3 linked regions of the Homo sapiens genome follow. The protein of the gene in region 1 interacts with the protein of each later gene in a biochemical or structural test. Each region holds a gene or a part of one and is shown on either strand. Other genes may lie near its edges. The genes, in order: VAMP7, AGFG1 and ANKRD27.

Region 1 (7,710 bases):
ATTTTTTTTTGTATTTTTAGTAGAGACGGGATTTCACCATTTTTGGTCAGGCTGGTCTCGAACTCCTGACCTCAGGTGATCCACCTCGGCCTCCCAAAGTGCTGGGATTACAGGCATGAGCCACCATGCCCGGCCAAGAAACACATCTTTGAGTATTACTTTCTCAGCCTGAGGTAATTTAAGTGGTAATGTTATTCTGCCACATTGTCATTTTCAGGATGTCAGATAAAAGCCTCAAGTATTAAAATTAAACTTTTTTTTTTCTTTTGAGACAGAGTTTTGCTCTTGTTACCCAGGCTGGAGTGCAATGGCATGATCTTGGCTCACCTCAGCCTCCACTTCCCGGGTTCAAGCGATTCTCCTGCCTCAGCCTCCCAAGTAGCTGGAATTACAGGCGTGCGCCACCACGCCTGGCTAATTTTGTATTTTTAGTAGAAACGGGGTTTCTCCATGTTGGTCAGGCTGGTCTCGAACTCCTGACCTTGGGTGATCCGCCCGCCTCAGCCTCCCAAAGTGCTGGGATTACAGGCATGAACCACTGCGCCCAGCCAAAATTAAAGTCTTATTCCATGCAGGTATCTTTCAATTGTAAATCATTACTGCAAAAGACAAATTTTGTCTTTATAACTGATTAAAAACAACAGCAGTACAAGAGTGCTTGAGTCATGACTGTCGTGAATTTAGGATGTGCCAACCTAAGATCAGCCAGATACTTCTAAGATGTAAACATTAAGCATTGTTATTTTAGGTGATTTATTGACACCTATTTCTTTATAGACAGGAATGCAAGTGCAGCACTGAATTGTGTGCCATTGCTCGTTTATAAGATACACATGTAGATGATCCAGAATATTCTTATACATTTTTCAGTGTTATCAAAATACAAATGCAGAATTAAAAGATTTCTCAAAACACATGGACTTGGCCTTTCCCCTTACTCAGTTACCTGAAACTGTCTTCAGCCTCTACTTGAAGATGCTTCTGCTGAGGAGGAGCATTTTCATCATTGCTGTTCTATGTTATTACCAAATTTTTTAATACAGGCAATTTCTTACTTACAAATGGATATATTCTAAAAGTACTGTTGTAAGCTTATTGTTTGGAACGCTGGATGCATTTCCTTCTATAAATAATGCTATCCATGACATTTACACTGTTATGCCAACCAGTATCATTTTATTAACTTTTAATTTAGTGGACTCGAAGACCTTCCCCACAATTTACAATAATTCCTCTATTAAAAAACTGCATTTATAATTCTCATTTGAATTCCCTTATAGCATATCTTTTTTTAGAAACCCAACAACTAGAACAAAAATATCCTTTCTTTAGTCCCTTAACATAGTAAAAACAGGCTTTTCTAACTCCAAACTGTTGTGGGTGACCCTTCTAGCCCTTAGCTCTAAGGACAGTCCTCCAATATGAGCAAGGAAAACGAAGGGACAGAGGTTTTAGAGAGGGAGGCAAGTTGGGTGATATGAGTATCTGGAAAGGGAAGGGTAGGATTTATTTGGGATGAACAGTGAGTTTCTAAAATGGAAGTTTGCATTGCTTGTCAGCCTTTTGGCTAAGATCAGGTGTAGTATCAGTTTAAAATGGGGGTTTGTTGTGGGTTGAATTGTGTCCTCCAGAAAGCTGTGTTGAAGTCCTAACCCGTGGTACCTGTGAATGGGATCTTATTTAGAAATAGGATCTTTGCAGATGTAATTAAGATGTAATTGAAAATGGGGTCATACTGGAGTAGAGTGGGCCCTTTATCCAATATGACTGGCATCCATATAAAAGAAGAGAGACAGAGAGAATGCAGTGTGAAGACACAGATACAGAGAACACCATGTGACTACAGAGGTAAAGATTGAAGTGCTGCACCTCCAAGCCAAGGAACACCAAGGATTGCCACCAAACTATCAGAAGCTAGAAAGAGATAAGGAAAGATTCTCTTCTACAGGTTTCAGAGGGAGCATAACCCTGCCAACATCTTGATTTTGGACTTTTAACCCTCAGAACTGGTAGGCGATACATTTCTGTTGTTTTAAGCAACCAAGTTTTTGGTACTTTATTACTGCAGCTACAAGAAACTAATACAGGATTCTTAGCAGGAATAAAGTAGAATTGGGATGGTGGCTGTGGGACCAAGTGGGGAGTGAATAGGAGAACAAAGAGGAACAGTGTTGATATGGGGCTTTCCTTTATGTTGCATTATCTTTTTTTCTTCCCTTCTCTCTCTGGCTTATCTTTTCATTCTTTTTCTTCTTGGATCTTATCTTTATATAGCACTTTATGGTTTATTAGGCATTTACATACTGCTAATAATTAGCAGAGCCAGGTTTTCTAACTTCAAGTGCAGTGTTCATTGTGCCACAATTGTTTCTGTTATCCCAATACTCATCAAGACGTTATGGATTCTATTACAAGACACTTACAATGGGGGCAGGTAAGACTTCATAGGTGGGATTTTTAGCAGTATAGCAGAGAGGAAGGAATTCCTATTAGTGACATCTGGAAGGAAAGTAAAGTTTCTGTTGCTATGTACCCACTGTTTAACAGTCATTTTTAAGTTGGGGACTGCTTTTATTGGAAGAAACACTACTTGCGTATAACTTATATTCATTGTTCCTAGTTATATTCTGAATAATGTGCTCCCTGTTCCAGGTGACTGTACTTTATATAAACTCAAAAACTATTGTCATGTTCCCTCTAAGTCCTCTCTTTCTCATGTTACATATCTCTAGTTCCTCCAGCCAGTCTTCAGATGACACAATCTCCATGTCTCTCACCCATATTGTATTGCCTCCCTTTTGTCTAGTCGTTAAATATTCTACCCAGAATTGAATTCAGTATTTTACATATGTTCTAACCAGCACAGAGTGTAATGGGACTAGTACTTAAACAGGTCAAGACACCCTATTTCTTAATGTACTTTGAGATTATGTAAGCATTTTTAAGCAATATCGCATACCGTTGGTTCATAATGAACTTACAGTCCACTGAAACACTAGATCTTTTTGTATTAATTGTTGCCAAGGTCAAGTTTCCTTCTGAACCTGCACAGGGACTGAGGCTGCTGCTACTTTTTCATCTCTCTGTTCCAGGGACCATATGATTTCTTATCTCTGTTTCTCTTTGTGTTTTTGTTCCTCTCTACTGTGTCTCTTTGACCCTAAGCAATGACCTCCTTCCTTGTTATAAAATTTCACTGATTGTTTTACAGTCTTCATTCTCTTTCTTTCCTTTCGGCTTCTGGGCCACCACACTTTTGGCTTTCCCATTTGGTCCTCCTCAGTCTTTGTGAGTCTCTATTTATCTACCTTTCCCTCAACTGTTGGTTGTGCTTTGGGTTTTATCTTTGGCACTATTTTTTTTTTCTGTATGCAATATATCTTCAGCAAATAAATCATGTTTAAAATGGCAGATCTAACTGAGCTCATCTGGGAATAAAAGGGCACAGAATCAGTCCCGGAGGAAAGTCGACATTTAGAGGTCAGGTAGAGGAGGAAGAGTCAGCAAGAAGACAAAAAGAGCAGCCAGAGATGTAGGAGCATTTCAAGAAGGAGGGTCGGTCAGCAGTGTTGACTGTGCCTAAGAGGTCAAGTAAGGTAAGAATAGAGAAGCAACCACTGTATTTTGCAATATAGAGGCTGTTGGTGACCTTAGGAAGCATGGTTTTCTGGAGTTTTAAGGGCAAAAGCTGGATTATAGTAAGTAGAAGAGTTGAAAGGAGGCAGAGGAGCAGAGATAATGCGTAACGATGCTTTGAAGAAACAGAACAGGGCCAGGTACGGTGGCTCATGCCTGTAATCCCAGCACTTTGGGAGGCCAAGGCAGGTGGATCACTTGAGCCCGGGAGTTCAAGACCAGCCTGGGTGACATGGTGAAACCCTGTCTGTACAAAAAAAAATACAAAAATAGCCGGACATGGTGGCACACACCTGTAGTCCCAGATACTCCAGAGGCTGAGGTAGGAGGATCACTTGAGCCTGATAAGTGGAGGCTGTAGTGAGCCAAGATTGTGCCACTGCACTCTAGCCTGGAGCTTGGGTGACAGAGCAAGACCCTGTCTCAAAAAAAAAAAAAAAAGAAAAGAAACAGAACAGTAGGATCCACAGTTAGGGAGGCTTTAGGATCAAGGGAGATAAAGTATAAGACAGCAATTTGGAAACTATAACTTACTGCATATGTGTAAGGAGAATTCTAGAAAGAAGATGGTTGAGATCACAACCCTGGGGAACAACTTCAGTTAGAGAGTAGGAATGAAAAAGAGATCCCCAAAAGGCATTCAGCCCAAGAGACAGATGAGCACCTTCTGCTCTGTGTGCTGTCCTTCCATGCTGGGATTGCAATAAGGAATCTGCACATTCCTTGATCTCAAACAGTTTATAGTTTGCTGTTGTGTTTCACAAAGTATGTTTGTGTGAATCACCTGCATCCAGACAGACTTGTATTAAATACAGATTCCAGGGCCCTACCTCAGGCCTACGGAATCAGAATTTCAGGAAGTGATGCCAAGAGTTTGAATTTTTAGCAAATGACTCATACTCTGCCACACAAGATGATTCGTATTCCCACTACAGTTTGAGAACCACTGGTATGTTGGGTACTGAGCATGTTAACAAATAAGAGTAGGTTTAACAGTTAATCGAAGACTAGACAAGGATTTGTTCATCTCTTTTTATGTTTATGCCATTAAATAAGAGAAGCTGGGCTTGTTAGGTGGGAAATAATAGCACATATTCATAGGCAGACATAAGGAAAATAATCTTAAACTCATGCCATATGGTTTTAGTAATGTTTTGTTTATGAAGGGTCTTACCATTCCTTTCTTGTGGAAGCTTTGAGTTATTTTCACTTTGTTTCTGTTATGGATAATGCCTTTATACTGGCAGTGTACAGTAAAAGGCTAAGATTATGAGCTCTAGAACCATACTGCCTAGGTTTAAATTGCAGCTCCACACTTACTAGCTCTGTAATTTGGGGGAAATTATTTAAGTCATCTGTGCTTCAGTTTTCTCATCTATAATAGAAGTATCATAATAGTGTATAATCTCATTGAGTTGTGAGGATTAAATGGATTAATAATTATAAAGTATTTAAAATGGTACCTGGCACATAGTAAACAATAAATATAGGCTATTTTTATTGTTAATAGTTATCTTTGTGAATCTAGAGTCTTAACTTCTGTTGAACTATTTCTCTAGGATAAATTTTCAGGATGGAATTTCTACATTAAAGAATGAAGACATCTTTATGTCCCTTTGCTATCTATAGTCATTGCTTTTCAAAAGGGTGATATCTGTTTGTGCTATAATAATTTGTAAATGCAAGCTATCAATGGTGTGTGTGTGTGTGTATGTGTTTTGTATGTCTCTTTATATGAATGCATACAAGCATGGCTTAGGTTGTAAGTTTGTAGAAAACTTTGACCTTCTTTTTAAGCCTGCTCTTAAGTCTGTTGTTAAGTTTCATGTTATAGTGCCTCGTTAGATACTATCTCCAGGTAGTATGTTGATAAATGATAGTAAGTTACCTTTGAAAGATTATGTCAAAGAAATATTCTAAATCTGTGTCTTTTTCCTTTTGATAGACTGAAGCCATGGCGATTCTTTTTGCTGTTGTTGCCAGGGGGACCACTATCCTTGCCAAACATGCTTGGTGTGGAGGAAACTTCCTGGAGGTGACAGAGCAGATTCTGGCTAAGATACCTTCTGAAAATAACAAACTAACGTACTCACATGGCAAGTGAGTTCTGTTCTGCATGTGGTAAGGGATGAAAGAAGGGAATTCTGTTACTCTAATCAGAACGGTAGAAAAGTAGAAAACAAGCTTCTAGGTACATAATTTGAATAAGCTGACAGAATAGTAACCTTCACCAACTTAGAAAATATATCTGGTTTTGTTACTTATAAATTTAACTTGTAATTATTTTATTCTATTATTGAAGTGATATTTTATTTTGAAGAAAGATGAAATGTTAAATGTAAAAATGACTTTGCTCTAGAGCTGTGTGATATGTGAAAATAATTCAGATAAGATAGATAATGTTCCTTTGTTCATTCTTTCAGTAAATATTTACTGAGCACTTAACTATTGCCAGGCACTTTGCTTGGTGCTGGGGATATAACAAGATATGTGGTATTTGCCCTCATAAGGGTTATAGTTTAATGAGGGAGAAAGTCAAATCCACGATGTCAAGGGTTGGGGGGATGGGAAGTAGTAGATAGGAGAATGGTATTCCAAGTAGAAGGAACAGCAGGTAGAGAAGTATGGAGGCATGAGATCATAGGGCGGGCATATTTAGGGAACTGCAGACTGTTCTCTGTGACTGGTGCCCAGGATGGTGAAAATAAAGCTAGAGAGATGGGTAGAAGAAAAGTCATGTAGGGCCTTGTAGGCCATATTAAGAGCTTGGACTTTACCTTGTGGGCAGTGGAAAGGCATTGAAGGTTTTCAGCCAGGGTGTGACAGAGTCAGGTTTGTTTTATTTATTTATTTATTTATTTATTTAGAAACAGAGTCTCACTCTGTCACCCAGGCTGGAGTGCAGTGGTGCGATCTTGGCTCACTGCAACCTCCATCTCCCAGGTTCAGATGATTCTCGTGCCTTAGCCTCCTGAGTAGCTGGGATTACAGGCGTGCACCACCATGCCCAGCTAATTTTTGTATTTTTAGTAGAGTTGGGGTTTCACCATGTTGGCCAGGCTTGTCTCAAGCTCCTGACCTCAGGTGATTCGCCTGCCTTGGCCTCCCAAAGCGTTGGGATTACAGGCGTGAGCCACTGCCCCTGGCCCTTCAGTCAGTTTTTGCTTTAGAAAGATCACTCTGGTGGCTTATTAGAGTGGCCATAGTTGGGAAATCTTAGTAATTAGTTTTAAAAAGTGCCTCAACCTTCCCCGTTGGCACTTAAAAATCTTTTCTTACTTAACCCAGCCTTACTTCCTTAGTTCTTATCTCAGAATGAGGTCCTTATTACTTTCTATGGCTAACCCCTTATACAGTTTAAGGTGTACTCTAAGCTACTATGAGAGAGACCCCCAAGATACAGTATTAATTTTAATGAGATAGTCCAGAGATGAGTGGTTTGGGATGTTGGGGTGGCTCTGCCATTTCCAATTCCCTAATTCCCAAAGCAATTAGTGCTTTCCACTTCTGGCCAAGGCAGCTCCTTTGGTGCTTGTTATATCCCAGTGCTTGCCCAGTAATTTTAAAGGCAGGGCCCAGAAGTGGCCTGATATTGTTGAGAAGCTTCCACTTACATCTTACTGTTCACTACACAGTCATGTAGCTAGCATAGCTAGAAGGGAGGCCAGGAATTGTCATCTCTGGCTATGTAGTCGTAGGCTCAACTAAAACTCTGTTACTCTGGAGGAAGTTATAGGATATCAGGGGATGACTTGCAGTCTTCCAGTCTACTCTCCTGGCCACCCAGATATTTCAGTGAACCTTTCTTCCCAAACATAGAATACGCCTCTTCTCTGAGAGAGGTAGCTCCAAAGACCTATCTAGTCACTGTGTTTGGCTCCAAGTCCAGCATGTCTAGGTGGTACACAGTCCTATCCATCAGGCCCTGGTGTGGCTCCTGTGGTCCACTGACCATAAAGTAAAAGATAAGTCATATGTTTTCCCTGCTTTCCCAGCCTAACCCAGTAGACAATGGTGAAATAAGAAAAGGATCATCACAGTGAGAGTTACAAACTCCCATTTGGAAAAGGGAAG
Region 2 (7,710 bases), on another chromosome or scaffold:
TAGATTCATGTTTTACAAATTGTATAACACATGATATATACATGTATACACACACACACATATATATAGCTATAGCAACATTCCTGTATAACTCACCTTTACAAAGTTGCAGAGAAGTCAAAGAAACTCATATTAGCAATAGCAAAAAGAACAAGTATATATACATTTCAACCACTTAACCAACAATTTCTTAATGTATAACAAACCATTGGAACATAATGCTACTGGCATACAAGATTATGCTGCTGTCTTAAACAATTCTCAAATTCTTGATACTCAAGCCCTCTTTAAGTCGAATTCCCTACAAAGATTCAAAGACTACTCACCTGACTAGGTGTGCCCTTATTTAAGTGCAGTGTTGGTGCAGAATCCCCTAAAAGAGATTTCAGTGGTTTGACCTCAGGTGTGCTGCTTGTGCTACTGGCAGAGGACCCTGAAATAGATGCATGAACTGATGCCACGACTTTGGCTTGTTCTGGCGGGACATACCTAAAACATGTAAAAAACAGTTAACTAAAAAAAAATGTAGGTAATTCTATATCAAAAAATGATAAGCTTAATTCTAACTTTGTACAAGATTGTTTCACCATTAATCTTATCTGAAAACCCTCTCACACAGAATAACTTTGCATATTTTTTAAAAAAGGAACGACAGCTTAAGACTACACCCATTAAATATTTGAAATACTCAGAGAAAAGAGAAGACTAACCACAAAACTTGTTTCAATTACTTATTTATGGTTTTTCTAAGATATTAAGTACAATATAAGAAATAACTGCTTTTTTTAAACAGAGGACCTACAATTAGTCATCACCATGAATAGTTCATACTATAATTTTTAAAATTATCTTAAGATCTAAATAACATTTGAAGAAAGATGAGGTAGGAAAACATTTGTAATATTACAGTTAACAGCCTAAAATATAAAGGCTTATTACATCTGTAAGAATAAGATCATCCCATTTTAAATGAACAAAAGAAGCAATTCACAGAAGACAGGAGACACAAAAATGAAAACACTTTTAACCTGACAAAAATGCAAATTAAGGTTTTATTCACCTATGAGCTAAGTGTGAACTTTACAATTTTTTATTGCTACCTACTAAAATATATAAATAGGTGTGCTTTGTGCACCAGAAGTGCCACTTCCAGAAACATCCTTAAGAATTGGTAAGTGTATACAGATGCATGTACACATGGATGTTAACCACAGTCCTCTCTTTATAATTTCACAAAAACTGGGAAACAAACCCAACATCTATCAAGGAAAAAAAATTTACGATAATACAATACTCATAGCTACTCTGCTTTGACATGGAAAGAGGAAACTTCACAGGTCTTTCAGATTTGATTCCAGTCATATAAACACATGATTTATGTGAGGAGGCGAGTCAAGAAAGGAGAGGTAGCAAGGATATAATAATGTCCAAACATAGGCAATCCTGACCTCTAGGTGTGGGATTATGTGAGAGCTTTTGCTCTTTGTAATTCTGGGTTTTGTCCTACCCTCCTTCTTATTCCCCATATGAAGTAGGTGAGGAAAGAAGGAAAACCATGCTTAAGAGCACCTGTTCCAGAGACAAGAGTTCAAATCCCAGCTCTACCACTAAATGGCTGTGAAACCTTGGGCAAACTATTAATACTTCAACTCTTTGTGCTTCCATTTTTTTCATTTATAAAATGGAGAGGCAGAGTTGCCTAGGTTTAAACAAGTTAACATTTGTAAAGCACTGAGAACAATTCCTGGTATACGTGTTAACTAAGTGTTCACTGTCACTAAACTACATAATAATCACAAACAACTGCTTTCAAGTAAATGGGAGAGATAAAAGATGTATGAGAATGAATACAAGAAGTTATATTTTCCCATAATTTAGCATACTACTAATACAAATTCTTCAGTATAGCCAAGTCTTATCAAAGGATAAAATCAAATGATAGTTATTGGTTCAAAAGACTCACCTGGCAAAGTAATATGCTACCATATTTTTACTATCAACCCACCTTCTAGGATTTTCTTCTTTCCTGAACTTAAATTTTACTGGTGTATTTTAATCTATTTTCATACCTGATGTCTTCTAGTATAACACAGAAAGTGATTTTGAGAACTGGTCAAAAGAACAGTTTCAAAATCCCTTTGGATAACACCATCATCACTGTTTTAAGTATAGTTACAGTGAGTATTTTTAGAGATGCTGCATCTGGATAGTGCTTATTCCATGTTAGAAACCAATTTCACTGCTTGCTAGCTGTATGTTACAGGTGTGCAGCAGTCTGGATTAAAAACATACAGGTCCTGGCCCTCTTAATGATGGTCACCTGTCCCACCACTTGAAGTCTCTATTTGTATAACTCTTATTATCCTGTTTCTCAGGAAAGAAAAAAAATAACATAAACTGTAATTATTTGAGGTTTCTAGGTATTTGCGTTATAGTTTGAATGAATAATACATTACTGTTATAAATGTGGGGGTAAGGATCTATGATTTTAATTCTACCAACTGTTACTCACACTCACTTTTCTGTTGATAGCTAGAGCTGACCATAAACTAATCCCTAACCAAACTCACTTTCTGAATTGGTAAAAGTAACACGGCTGAGAAAACAAAACTAGGTTAGGGCTATGTAAGGAGAACAGTCTTTCCTACAGGGTAGAATGTCTAGGAAATTCAGAACCAAAATGATAAAAGGATAATTATACCTTTCATTTTAAAAGAATCATTTATGCTACCATATTTTTACTACCAACCCACCTTCTAGTATTTTCTTCTTTCCTGAACTTAAATTTTACTGGTGTATTTTAATCTATTTTCATACTTGATGTCTTCTAGTACAGCTGAATATAGCCCTGACTAATCTTGCCTTGCAAAAAGTAGTCTATTTTAGGCCGGGCACAGTGGCTCACAACTGTAATCCCAGCACTTTGGGAGGCTGAGGCAGGTGGATCACCTGAGGTCAGGAGTTCAAGACCAGCCTGGCCAACATGGCGAAACCCTGTCTCTACTAAAAATGCAAAAAATTAGCCAGGCGTGGTGGTGGGTGCCTGTAATCCCAGCTACTTGGGAGGCTGAGGCATGAGAATTGCTTGAACCCAGGAGGCGGGGGTTGCAGTGAGCCGAGATCGCACCATTGCACTCCAGCCTAGGTGACAAAAGCAAAACTCAGTCTCCAAAAAAAAAAGAAAAATGTAGTCTATTTTGGAAAGTAGTAAGAATACAAATTTTGATAGAGCATGCAAGTCAGAGCTAATGTGCTCCTGAATGAAGGTAAAGACCTCTGCTGTAAACCACAACAAATGTTCCCTCAGGACCAAAACAGGCTCTGAACAGATTCTCTTGGGTTGAAACAGAGTTCCTCAAGCAAACAAGAAGCTCGTTACTTCCCCATTATTTATTCCCTCTATTTTGACTCTCTGCCCCATCTTGTTAACCTCCCAAGATGAAAGTATCCACTATGCAATACTATTAAAGAAATAACCAAAAGTTCATAGTTAATGAGTCTTAGTAACTTAAATTGTGCTCATATAGCTAAAAATGAAGAACCCTCAGTAGCTGAACACTAGCTTTATAGATATAGTCCCTATTCCATAGCAAGGGGCTTACTAGCTATATGTACAACCTGTTGGAATTAATTTTTAAAAATTAACATCTGATAGATTTAGTTAGGGAAAAGTAAATGCTCCCTTCTTAACCAGAAAGTAAACTGATTTCTTAGGTCAAAAGAAAAAATATTTTGAGCAAAGGCTACAACAGACAATTAAGTAGATGGATTACTACACCAGAGCTTTAGCATAGTGCCTAGTATACAGAAGATGAAACTCAATAAATTAAAAAAAGATATGACTCAGTAAATACTTGCTAAATTAATGATTTTTAAGAACGGAGGCTTTGTAGGGCAAAACATATTTAAAGAAGCTAACAGAGATAGGGAATGATTAGAAGGAAGAATCCCTAACTTTCCTGGTAATTATTACAACAAAAAGCCTGCTGCCAGGAACAGATGAGTTAAGATAAAGTAGAAGTAAAGGTTTTCAGAAACCAAACCAACAAAAAGCCAAGGGATAATGAATTATATACCTATCTAGTTCTCACTGTCTGTCTTTTATCCTTCATTGTGTCAGACTAACCTTACCCATAGTTAATATGTGATTTGGGGAGGCTTTATTCTACATACAAACTCTTCACTCACCATCTTTTCTTTTCATACTTTTCTTGTAGAAACTCTTTCACTTTTTGTGGATCCCTGAAGTCTGGAATTGCTGAAGATCTATCATCAAATAATCCTAGCCAAATCTGTTTACAGACCTTTGGAAAGAATTAAAAAAATATATGTTAAATTCAACATCTTCACTTAATGAAATTTTAAGGGGATACTATGATTCTTTCAGGAAGCTAATCTACATAATAATTTTAATAATATGCTTTCAATGAGGATACTAATAAACAGGAACTAAATTTATTTTTAATATGTTGCAGTATGCAGTAAAATTTTAGCAACAAAATCATTAAAAAGGGGAAATGAAGAGTGAAGTGGGATTTCAGAGGACCTGGGGTCTTTTCAGTCTTGGCATAATCATAAACTTCACCATTAGCAAAGTCATGTAACCTGCTCAGTTCCCTTACAAAACAAAGGAACTGAACCAATGGCTATTTCACAGGCCCTTTAGCAAGTCTAAAAAACCAAAAAGAACAAACAAAAATACTAGAATCATAAACACTTTAAAATTGTAACAATAAACACAAATATAAGGCAAACACACTATTAGCTTTATAGCTGTCTCCTATGCATTTTTGGTCCAATAGCTAAAAAATGAGAATCTGAGATATTTAACTTTCAGAAAAACCAAAAGAGAAATGAAATAAAATAGCACAAAAAGAACTATAAAGAGAAAAACTGATAAAGCAGACTTCATCAAAATAAAAAACTATTCTTCAAAAAAACTTAAAAAGTACAAAAATCAAGACACCAACTGATCAAAAGTATTTGTAAAATGTATAAGAACTTGAAACTGGAATATATAAAGAATTCCTACAACTCAATTATAAAAGACAGATAACCCAACACTTGTTTTGGTTTTTGTTTGTTTGAGAAAAGGTCTGTCTCTATCACCCAGGATGGAGTGCAGTGGTGCAATCTCAGCTTATTGCCTCCCAGGCTCAAGCCATCCTCCCACTTCAGCCTCCTGAGTAAGCTGGGACTACAGGAGTGCAGCACCACAGGTGGCTAATTTTTTGTATTTTTTGTAGAGATGGTGTTTCACCATGTTGCCCAGGCTGGTCTCGAACTCATGAGCTCAAGCGATCTGCCCGCCTCAGCCTCCCAAAGTGCTGGGATTACAGGCGCGAGCCACCATGCCCAGCCAACACTTGTTTAAAGCGGGGGCAAAAGGTCTGAACAAACACTTCACCAAAGATATCAGCAGCCCACTATCATTAGTCATGCATAAAATGCAAATTAAAATGACACTGAGGCCGGGTGCAGGCGGATCACCTGAGGTCAGGAGTTCGGGACTAGACTGGCCAAAATGGTGAAACCCCATCTCTACTAAAAATACAAAAAAATTAGCCAGGCGTAGTGGTGCATGCCTGTAATCCCAGCTACTCAGGAGGCTGAGTCAGAAGAATGGCTTGAACCCAGGAAGGGGAGGTTGCAGTGAGCCAAGATCATGTCATTGCACTCCAGCCTGGGCGACAAGAGCAAAACTCTGTCTTTAAAAAAAAAAAAAAAAAAAAAAAGACACTGAGACTCCACAAGACAGACATGCATATACTACTAGAAAAGCCGAAAACAAAGTGTGACTGCATCATGTGTTGGTAACAATGTGGAACAACCGGAATTCTTTAGAATGTAAAATGGTGTAAGCACTTTGGAAAACATTTGGCAGTTTCTCAAGAGTTAAACATAGACCTAGCATATGATGTAGCCATTCTACTTCTAGGTATTTATTCAAGAAAAATAAAAGCACTTTTCCACACTCAGACTGTACATAAATATTTGTAGCAGCTTTACTGATAATAACCCCAAACTGGAAATCACCCAATTGTTCATAAACAAGTGAATAAACAAATGGGAGAATATCCAAAGAAGAACATTATTCAGCAATTAAAAGGAGAAAACCATTAATACAAGAAACATGAATAAACCTCAAGATTATGCTGAAAGAAACATGTGCACCCCCCCACCAAAACGTATATACTGCATATTTCCATTCATTTAAATTTTTAATGTAAACCAGTCTACAGCGATGAAAAGCAGATCAGTGGATTCATTACAAAGGGTTGCACAATGAAAATATATGCTATCTTGTTATTGTGGTAGTGGTTTCATGATACATACAAATGTCAAAACTCATCAAATTGTACACTTTAAGTATGTACACGTTATCAGTTTAAATATCCAAGTTATCAACTATTCCTCAGCAAAATTATCAAAAACAAGTCCACGAGTTTCCAAAATACATTATTCTAAAGAATAAGCAATTACGACACTATGAAAAGAGCATAGTATCTGGTTTCAAAAACCCTGACAAGTATTTAAGAAATCAGGGAAGGAAAAGCGTACTTCTCAATCTTACCTGCTCACTGAACTGGGTATGGGAGAAATAAGAGAAAGGTTAGGAGAAAGGACTTGCCCTTCTCCTTTCCTATCATGTCCCCAAATCTGTTTCAAAACATTTCTTGTGGGTCGGGCGTGGTGGCTCACGCCTGTAATCCCAGCACTATGGGAGGCCAAGGCAGGCGGATCATGAGGTCAGGAGATCGAGACCATCATGGCCAACATGGTGAAACCCCACCTCTACTAAAAATACAGAAAAAACAAATAGCTGGGCATGGTGGCGCATGCCTGTAACCCCAGCTACTCCAGAAGCTGAAGCAGGAGAATCGCTTGAACCCGGGAGTCAGAGGTTGCAGTGAGCCGAGATTGCGCCACTGCACTCCAGCCTGATGACAGAGTGAGACTCCGTGTCTGTCTGTCTATATATATATTTCTTGTGGTTCCTTCCTATTCCAGGCTCAGTACAGATACTATAAAGTCATTTAGGAAGTGACAGTTAAAACGAGTGAGAACTAGAGTAAGGCACAATCCATTATGAAAACATTTCACTGGCAACGCCTGAGAAGTACAGACATCCAGGAACATTAGTACAACTTACTGCCAGAAATACTACAGACCTTTAAGAGACCCAGCTTGTCCAATATTTAGCCACTTACAAAGAACTACATGGGACTCTCCTCAGGCAGAAACCTAACTAATGATTCTCCCAAAATGTAATTCTTTAAGATTTTTAAAGATTTATCAGTTACATTCATAAAGGGAGGCCTGGAAGTTTTTCATTCTTCTATTTTAAAACTTCCCAAATGAGAAAACAAGAGACAGGGTAGTTATTTACCCAAAGCCATGAAACTATTGACTGTATTTGATGGACACTTTACTATATTCCAAAACCTCTGCCACATACCACTTTTAAAACTAAAATCAATAAATGAATAAATAATAAGCATACAAATAAATAAATAAAATGAAGCAGATGGGCTAAGGGCAGACAGATCATAGAGCTGCCATCTTGGCACTCGTAACGCAAAGCAAAGATGGAGTGCTTGATGATAAACTATTTGACATAAGCAGCCTGCAGGATTCCCTCAAAATTGTTTACTAACTGCTGTGGTTCTGTTCCTGCTCTCTGGAAGGTCACACTGCTAGAGAAAAAAG
Region 3 (7,710 bases), on another chromosome or scaffold:
ACCTCAGATGATCCACCTGCCTTGGCTTCCCAAAGTGCTGGGATTACAGGCGTGAGCCACCGTGCCCGGCCCAGCACACAATATAATTTCAATTATGTAAAATATACATGGGTAGGAAAAAGACTGAAAATGCATGAACGTGTCAATAACGAATGAATGGGGTGGAAATGCCTGCACCTGAGAGCACCTGGACAGGCTGATGCTGTCTCCCAGACGCTTTAGCTCATCATTATTTTGGGAGATTCTACATCAAAGTCTGACAAAGATGAATGTTCAATCCTTGGCACTCTCACCTTATAATACAGAGATCTTTTCATTTTATAGATTTCAACTTTGTGATTTCTGTATGATCACATTTTACTCATTGGTATGTAGTAAAACAGGCCAGCAGGACAACCATGGTTCAAGATTCTCACGATTCACATAGAAATATAATCACATCCCCTCGCCGACCCCAGCCAATGCTCAATAAAAACCAAGGAAACAATGGCAAGGCCACTGAGTCCTCAAATTGCACACATTAATGGTCTCACAGATGGCAGTGGCAGCCCATCGGGAGTGGCTGCTGCAAAGACGTAAGCTGCAGTGGAGGAAGCGCGGCCAGGTTTGTGCACTCTGCAGGGCCAACAGGAGCCAGGAACAGGCAGGAGCCCCCATCTCCTACTGAGCTGGCAGGGCGGGAGCCCTGCACTCCCAGGCGCAGCTGCAGCCGCCCAGCCGCAGCTCTGGATCCAGGAATCTCTGCACTCTCAGGGGCCCAGGAAGCATCCCTGCCGCCGCAGGCTCGTAAGTGCCTGCTCCCGCTCCTCCCCACTCCTGGCACCGACTTCAATTTCAGAGCAAAGCTGAGGCCAAGCCCGGGTACTGTTGCAACCCAGCCATGTGTGCACATGCTTGGTGTGACACTGACACACCAGCCTCCTGATGCCTCAGACCCCTCCAAGATTTTGGGCGCTGATGAGCATGGGAGAGTAGTCAAGGTAGGGGCTGAGGGCAGCTCAGTGCAGGCCTGCAGATGCCCCTTGGCACAAACAGCCTGGATGCACTGGCCAGCATGTTGATGGTGGCAGAAGGCAGACACGCTTCTGGGTGGAAAGGTGCAGGTGCCCAGTGAAGCCCCACCTTCAAGACAGGGACAGCCTAAAGCCTGGGGGCCGGGCTGTCAGTCCCAAGTGGAGTCCACGACCCAGACTGAGAACTCATGGTGCTTTCTCCAGGCCCACCTATGGACCAATCAGCACATACTCCCTCCCTTCTGAGCCATAAAAAACCCCGGACTCAGCCAGACTCAGACAGATGTCGGGACTACCAACTGCAGGAAGGAGCTACCTACGTCAGGCCTCTTTAACTCGTCAGGACGACCTGCCTGTGGAAAGAAGCTGCCCACTGTGGGTCTCCTGAGAGCTATTCTGCCGTTCAGTAAAGCTCCTCTCTGCCTTGCTCACCCTCCACTAGTCTACGTACCTCATTCTTCCTCGACATGGGACAAGAACTCGGGACCCACCAAATGGCAGGACTGAAAGAGCTGTAACATAAAGAGAGCTAAAACATGCTCCCGACTCACTACATTGCAGGTGACGAGAGGAGAGAAGAGCTCTGGCCCTTCAGGGAGCCCAACCTAGGAGTTCCCCGAGCCAGGGCTATGACACCCTCTTTGGGGCTCTGCAGTTCCTGGTGTCTCCAAGCTTCCAGGCCCCACTGTGTTCCCCAGTGCCCACCGTGGAAGCGGCCTACAGTACGCCTGCTCTAGCTGCAGCCTTGCATGGAGCAGGACCCTGTACAAGCAACTTGGAGCTGCCCACCCCACCTCAGTCGGCACACCTGGTTGTGTGCAGTGGCCAGACCCTGCACTTGCTCACATACCCCTCGCCACTCCACACCTGGCTCGCCCTTGGCAGGCATGGGATCCAGGCCAGTAGCACAAGCCGAGCGCAGCCTGCCAGGCCAAGAGCGTGAAATGAGCCCAGCAGGCCCGAACAAAACTCAGGCAAAGGAGCCACCAGCCACAGAGGTTTCCGGCTGGAAAAGCGACAGTCCAGGGATCCCGTGACATCACTTCTTGACTATCAAGGTCAAGAAATCCAAATTCCCTACTTCTGGCTTCCCTTTGCACCCACATGTCTTTGGAGAGGATGGGGACTAATGAAGTAGGATATTAACAATGTAAATCCCAATGATAACCCACCAATTTTTACCACCAATTGAGGGCTTGGTGTTCTCTTCACTGAGTGATTTTTAAGACTCACAGCCCTCAAACAGCTGAGGCCCCATTCCTGGGAGGCAATTTAAGAATCCGTCTGCCCACATACCAACCCCAGCACCCTATCAAGGGAACCATGATGCCCACAAAGGAAGGCCAGGGCAGGGGTGAGATCTTACAGGGGGTTTAGCAGAGAGGCTTCCTTGCCGAATATATTCAATGGCAGCTTCGAATGAGGTCAGGCAGTATCCCAGTTCATCCTTTGCCAAGCTGCTAAACCTGAAGTTTTTGATGTAACTCAAATTTGCCATCCTAATGAAAGGAAGAAAAAAGTTATGTTGTTGTCTATCCAAGTCACACTTCTGCAAAAAAAATATCATTGGCTTGGGCAACTGATCAAATATCTAGTCAGTTGGTTCGCTCAGGAAGCTACGACCACCATCCCCTGGATCTCTCTGCAGAGTGTGTGCGATTAGGAACACAAGTAAAATGACTAGCTAGTTCCCTGAAATAGTCTTTAGCAAGCTGATTACCGTAAACTGAGCTGTGGGTTCCAGGGGAGAGATTATGGGTTTTGGGGCCAGAAAGAATGGCAATCAGCTTTCTGCTCAACCACTGTCTAGACACTCATTCCAGAACAAGAAATGTAAGCTCTCCGGGCCTTGGTTTCCCCATCTGTAAGTGGATGGATGAAGCAAGGGGAGGCCCCACACCTAGCTCGTAACAGGTGTCCAATTGAAGATGGGCTTTTCCTAGAGTTACATTAGAACTACCACAGTGCAGTGCTGCCATTTTTTTTTTTTGAGACGGAGTCTCGCTATGTCGCCCAGGCTGGAGTGCGGTGGCGCGATTTCAGCTCACTGCAAGCTCCGCCTCCTGGGTTCACGCCATTCTCCTGCCTCAGCCTCCTGAGTAGCTGGGACTACAGGTGCCCACCACCATGCCCAGCTAATTTTTTTGTATTTTTTAGTAGAGACGGGGTTTCACCGTGTTAGCCAGGATGGTCTCGATCTCCTGACCTCGTGATCCGCCCGCCTTGGCCTCCCAAAGTGCTGGGATTACAGGCGTGAGCCACCGTGCCCGGCCAAGCACTGCCATTTTCAAAAGAGTATCTTAAAAGAAAATGTTACCAATTAGGGATCTCCGTTTTCACAAGCAAGTATAACAGGACTGATAGCAGATCATCAGCACACATGGTCTCCAGGTTCACTGCAAAGGGGAAACACACATTCAATGCCATCATGAGATTCAAATGGACTGACAAGCATATCAACTCCCTACCACCGCACACCTTGTGAAACCACGTATCAGGGAGATCATACACTGGGGGAGAAATGTCATTGCACAAGCTCCTTTACAGCGTCCTGATCAGATGTCAGGTCCAGGGGGAAAAGAATGCCCAGCAATTTCAGAACATGACCAAAACAAGGTATTAGTAACTCTAGCCAGATACGGCAGCACGTGCCTGTAATCCCAGTGCTTTGGGAGGCCGAGACGGGAGAATTGCTTGAGGCCAGGAGTCTGAGGCCAGCCTGGGCAATATAGCAAGACCCCCACCTCTACAAAAAAATATGAAAATTAGCCAAGGGTGGTGGTGCATGCCTGTAATCCCAGGTACTTGGGAGGCTGAGGCAAGAGGATCACTTGAGCCCAGGAGTTCAAGGATGTAGTGATCTACAAATGCACCCAGCCTGGGTGACAGAGTGAGACCCTGTCTCTTTTTTTTGTTTGTTTGTTTTTGAAACGGAGTCTCGCTCAGTCACCCAGACTGGAGTGCAGTGGCGCAATCTTGGCTCACTGCAAGCTCCGCCTCCCGGGTTCACGCCACTCTCCTGCCTCAGCCTCCTGAGCAGCTGGGACTACAGGTGCCCGCCACCATGCCCAGCTAATTTTTTTTTGCATTTTTAGTAGAGACAGGGTTTCACCGTGCTAGCCAGGATGGTCTCGATCTCCTGACCTCGTGATCTGCCCGCCTCAGCCTCCCAAAGTGCTGGGATTACAGGTGTGAGCCACCGCGCCCAGCCGACCCTGTCTCTTAAGAAAAAAAAAAAATATGTTAACTCCAAGCAGACCATGCCTTGCCACCCCCTTGGACGCTGAAAGAGCCCAGGGAGGTGGCTTCAGTGATAAAAAATGAAGATGAGCCCAGAGCCATCACCTAAAGTCTCTTTCTTCCTAAAGTCACCAAGGTCCTTCCTAAGGTCACTTCCATTTTATAGACATGGAGTCCACTGCCCATGTGGAGTTTCACTTTTTTTCCATTTTGAAATTTTAAGTAATTCATTCACATTTAAAAATTCAAACAATACAAAAGAGCAAACTGTGAATGTTCCTCCCATCCCTGCCAGCCAGTCTCTTTTCCCAGAGGCTCCTGCTGTTGCTTCCTGCACATCTGTCCAGGACAGCTATGAGCTCACCATCATATCGTGGCTAAACAGCTATCCCCCATTCTTTGATGCTGTTGGCTGGAAGTCTACCATATGCATTCCTGTTTATTTCATTCCATACACTCAGGATCATCCCTTATCTACACATACAGCTATGTCTCTTCCTTACTGACTTTTTCTTGACTTGTTTTCTTTTACTTCTTCTTTTTTTTTTTTTTTTTTGAGAAGGGGTCTCACTCTATCACCCAGGCTGTAGTGCACTGGTGTGATCATAGCTCACTGCAACCTCCAATTCCTGGCCTCAAGTGATCCTCCCACCTTGGCCTCCCAAAGCACTGGGGTTACAGAGGTGAGCCACTGCACCCAGCCCCATAAAAATCCCTTAAGACAGCATCACTCTTTGCTTTTTCATCTGGATGTAGCATCTACCCCTTGGCCAGTCCCCTTTCCAAGCACAAACCTCTCTGGCTTGGAGACTGTGTAATGAGCTGCACCACTTTTCGCAAGCAGACAAGCTTCTGCTGTGGGGAGGTGCATTTGTTCAGCTGAGCCAGCTCTCTTTTGGCACGAGGTATGTTAAAGCTGTAAAATAATTTGGAAAGTGACAACTTCAGAGCACAGTAAGAGAACCCTCTGGCCTGGATCTAAGAACACATCTCAGGATCTACACTTCTCACAACAAACCAGAAGGAATGAAACACAAAAACAGATACTGAGAAGTCATCTGACTCAAGTCAGCGGCAAAACAGAAGAGCCTTCAATCCCATTCAGGCTGCCAGGTGATAGAGTTGTACAAGAAAAGCTGAAAAAAAAAAATCCTATTCCTAGAGGGAAACAACCCAAAGAGGGTTGTGGTAGGTGAAACATTTTTGTGTCCTAATGAAACTTAAATTAGGCTCGGCGCAGTGGCTCACGCCTGTAATCCCAGCACTTGTAAACCAGGGTGGGCAGATCACTTGAGGTCAGGAGTTCAAGACCAGCCTGGCCAACATGGTGAAACCCCATCTCTTCTAAAAATACAAAAATTAGCAGGGCATGGTAGTGTGCACCTGTAATCCCGCTACTCGGGAGGCTGAGGCAGGAGAATCACTTGAACTCAGGAGGCAGAGGTTGCAGTGAGCCGAGATCACACCACTGCACTCCAGCCTGGGCGACAGAGTGAGACTTTGTCTCAAAAAGAATAAAAATTAAAGAAATGAATTAACTCCTAAGTAGGTATCTCTATGGCAAGGTTCCCTTGGGTGGGCAGGTGGGATGTCCCCTGCACGCAGAACCCACATGGGCAAATTACATGCCCACTTGGGGACCAGCTGCACAAAACCCCGTGCCCAGCGGCTCCCATCCAGCTGGCGTGCTGGTGCAGTGTGGGAGGGGGACGGCCACACACAGTCACCTATAAAGGGCAGCCCTTTATCTTTGGTTGCAAGTAACTGCGCTGCTCCTCAGAACTAACCACATCAAACCAGCGTGTCACCTCTGCCACCGAGAGGGCCTGCTTCCGGGAGAAGACAGCACCCCTGCCTCTGAGGACACCAAGCCGCTGTGGCGCAAACCCTTACCTGAACTCCGGTTTCACACCAATATCTTTCTGCTGAAGATCTTGAAGGCTTCTTGTGATTTTGTTAAAGGCCGCATCCTAACAACAGATTTTAACGAACCTTCAAATTTCTCAAAAAGCACAGAAGAAGGCTTCCATCTTGGGTGATAATAACTGAGAACCTACCTCACTTGCCTCCATGGTCCCCACGTATTTAAAGATCAGGTTGTAAATTTCATGATGGACGTATATCTGTGGAATCAACAGACCCCATTCAGGGTGTGAGCGGGCAACAGGGTGTGCCTCCCAGCCACTCCGCCCCACCCTCACCTCCACTGCCTGCTTCATCAGGTTCATCTGGGCCTCCTGCTTGGCGAGCATTTTCTAGAGGGCAAGAAAAGCACAGTGAAAGGGCTTGGATTTGCATGGGGGTGCACCACAATTCTCCCTCTCAGAAGTCCTGCTGCTTACCAGGTGAGAGTCCCTCAGAAGCTGCTGGAGGCATTTGGTGTAGAGAGCATTCGCTGAGTCCTAAACCACATAGAGCAGAGGGACAGGCCACCCTTACCAGCAAGGCCATGACGGGGGAGCCGGAGCGGGTAAGGCGCACAGAGCTTCAAGTGCTAACACAAGCTTTATGAAGTCAATTACGTGATTTTTCTCAACTTTTTTTTTAGGTGTATATGCATTAAAAGCAGGAGAAACTTCCCCTTGGGGTTAACACAGAGGATAATAATACTCATTGTTATACTTCCCCATGACTTTACCACTTGGTTTGTTTTTTCTTTTTAAGAGACAGGGTCTCACTTTGTTGCCCAGAGTAGAGTGCAGTGGTATGACTATAGCACGCTGCAGTCTCAAACTCCTGGGCTAAAGCCATCCTCCCACCTCGGCCTCCCAAGTAGCTGGGAATACACGTGCATGCCACCATGCCTGGCTAATTTTTGTATTTTCTGTAATGATGGGGTCTTTTTATGTTACCCAGGCTGGTCTTGAACTCCCAGCCTCAAGAGATCCTCCCATCTCGGCCTCCCAAAGTGCTGGGAAGACAGGCTTGTACCACCATGCCCGGTTAAACTACTTTTATAGTTAGAGAGAAACATTTTTAAAAGACTTCAAACAGTGAGGCAGCACCAGGCAGTTCCAGAGGAAACTGAGGGCTCCCAGCACCCTGCACTGAACCGAGACAGGGCACGCCAGGCAGAGGACAGCACGGCTACTGACTATGTGGTGACGGAGGCTCTTTCTCTCGCATTCTCGGAATGTTCGATGGAAAGAGGCGATGTTCCTGTCAAATCGCTCGGAGTGTCTTCCCAAGAACTCTCTCACATCTTCAATGGTTTTCAGGGAAAAGGGATCTGAGGGTGCCAAAGGCTCTTCTGAAAAAGAAACAAACAGGTCAGGCCGGCTGAAGCCTCTGCTGGTTCCTGACTCTGTCCTATCCTACAGGGCCTAGGCCCTCTGGGGAGGAGGGCAAATGTCCTTATTTCAAGACACTACACAAGAACAGCCCAGTTACAGGACACCCTGGAGTCCAGAGAGCCTGGTCCTCTCAAGGCCTCTTCCTGGGACAAAACCAAACTATC

What was found.
Region 2: the proteins of VAMP7 (region 1) and AGFG1 form a complex in vitro, tested with the Homo sapiens proteins (one study listed by IntAct).
Region 3: the proteins of VAMP7 (region 1) and ANKRD27 form a complex in vitro, tested with the Homo sapiens proteins (one study listed by BioGRID).

The regions. Positions count from the first base shown.
Region 1 is NC_000023.11:155,883,877-155,891,586, forward strand, and holds part of VAMP7 (vesicle-associated membrane protein 7), read left to right. Parts: intron 1-5,581; 5' UTR 5,582-5,590; coding exon 5,591-5,736; exon of another isoform or gene 5,737-5,752; coding exon of another isoform or gene 5,753-5,757; intron 5,758-7,710. UniProt on the Homo sapiens protein: Involved in the targeting and/or fusion of transport vesicles to their target membrane during transport of proteins from the early endosome to the lysosome. Required for heterotypic fusion of late endosomes with lysosomes and homotypic lysosomal fusion.
Region 2 is NC_000002.12:227,516,542-227,524,251, reverse strand, and holds part of AGFG1 (arf-GAP domain and FG repeat-containing protein 1), read right to left. Parts: intron 4,305-7,710; coding exon 4,189-4,304; intron 490-4,188; coding exon 327-489; intron 1-326. UniProt on the Homo sapiens protein: Required for vesicle docking or fusion during acrosome biogenesis. May play a role in RNA trafficking or localization.
Region 3 is NC_000019.10:32,636,977-32,644,686, forward strand, and holds part of ANKRD27 (ankyrin repeat domain-containing protein 27), read right to left. Parts: intron 7,504-7,710; coding exon 7,349-7,503; intron 6,656-7,348; coding exon 6,596-6,655; intron 6,509-6,595; coding exon 6,455-6,508; intron 6,377-6,454; coding exon 6,311-6,376; intron 6,224-6,310; coding exon 6,147-6,223; intron 5,170-6,146; coding exon 5,048-5,169; intron 3,410-5,047; coding exon 3,331-3,409; intron 2,513-3,330; coding exon 2,380-2,512; intron 1-2,379. UniProt on the Homo sapiens protein: May be a guanine exchange factor (GEF) for Rab21, Rab32 and Rab38 and regulate endosome dynamics.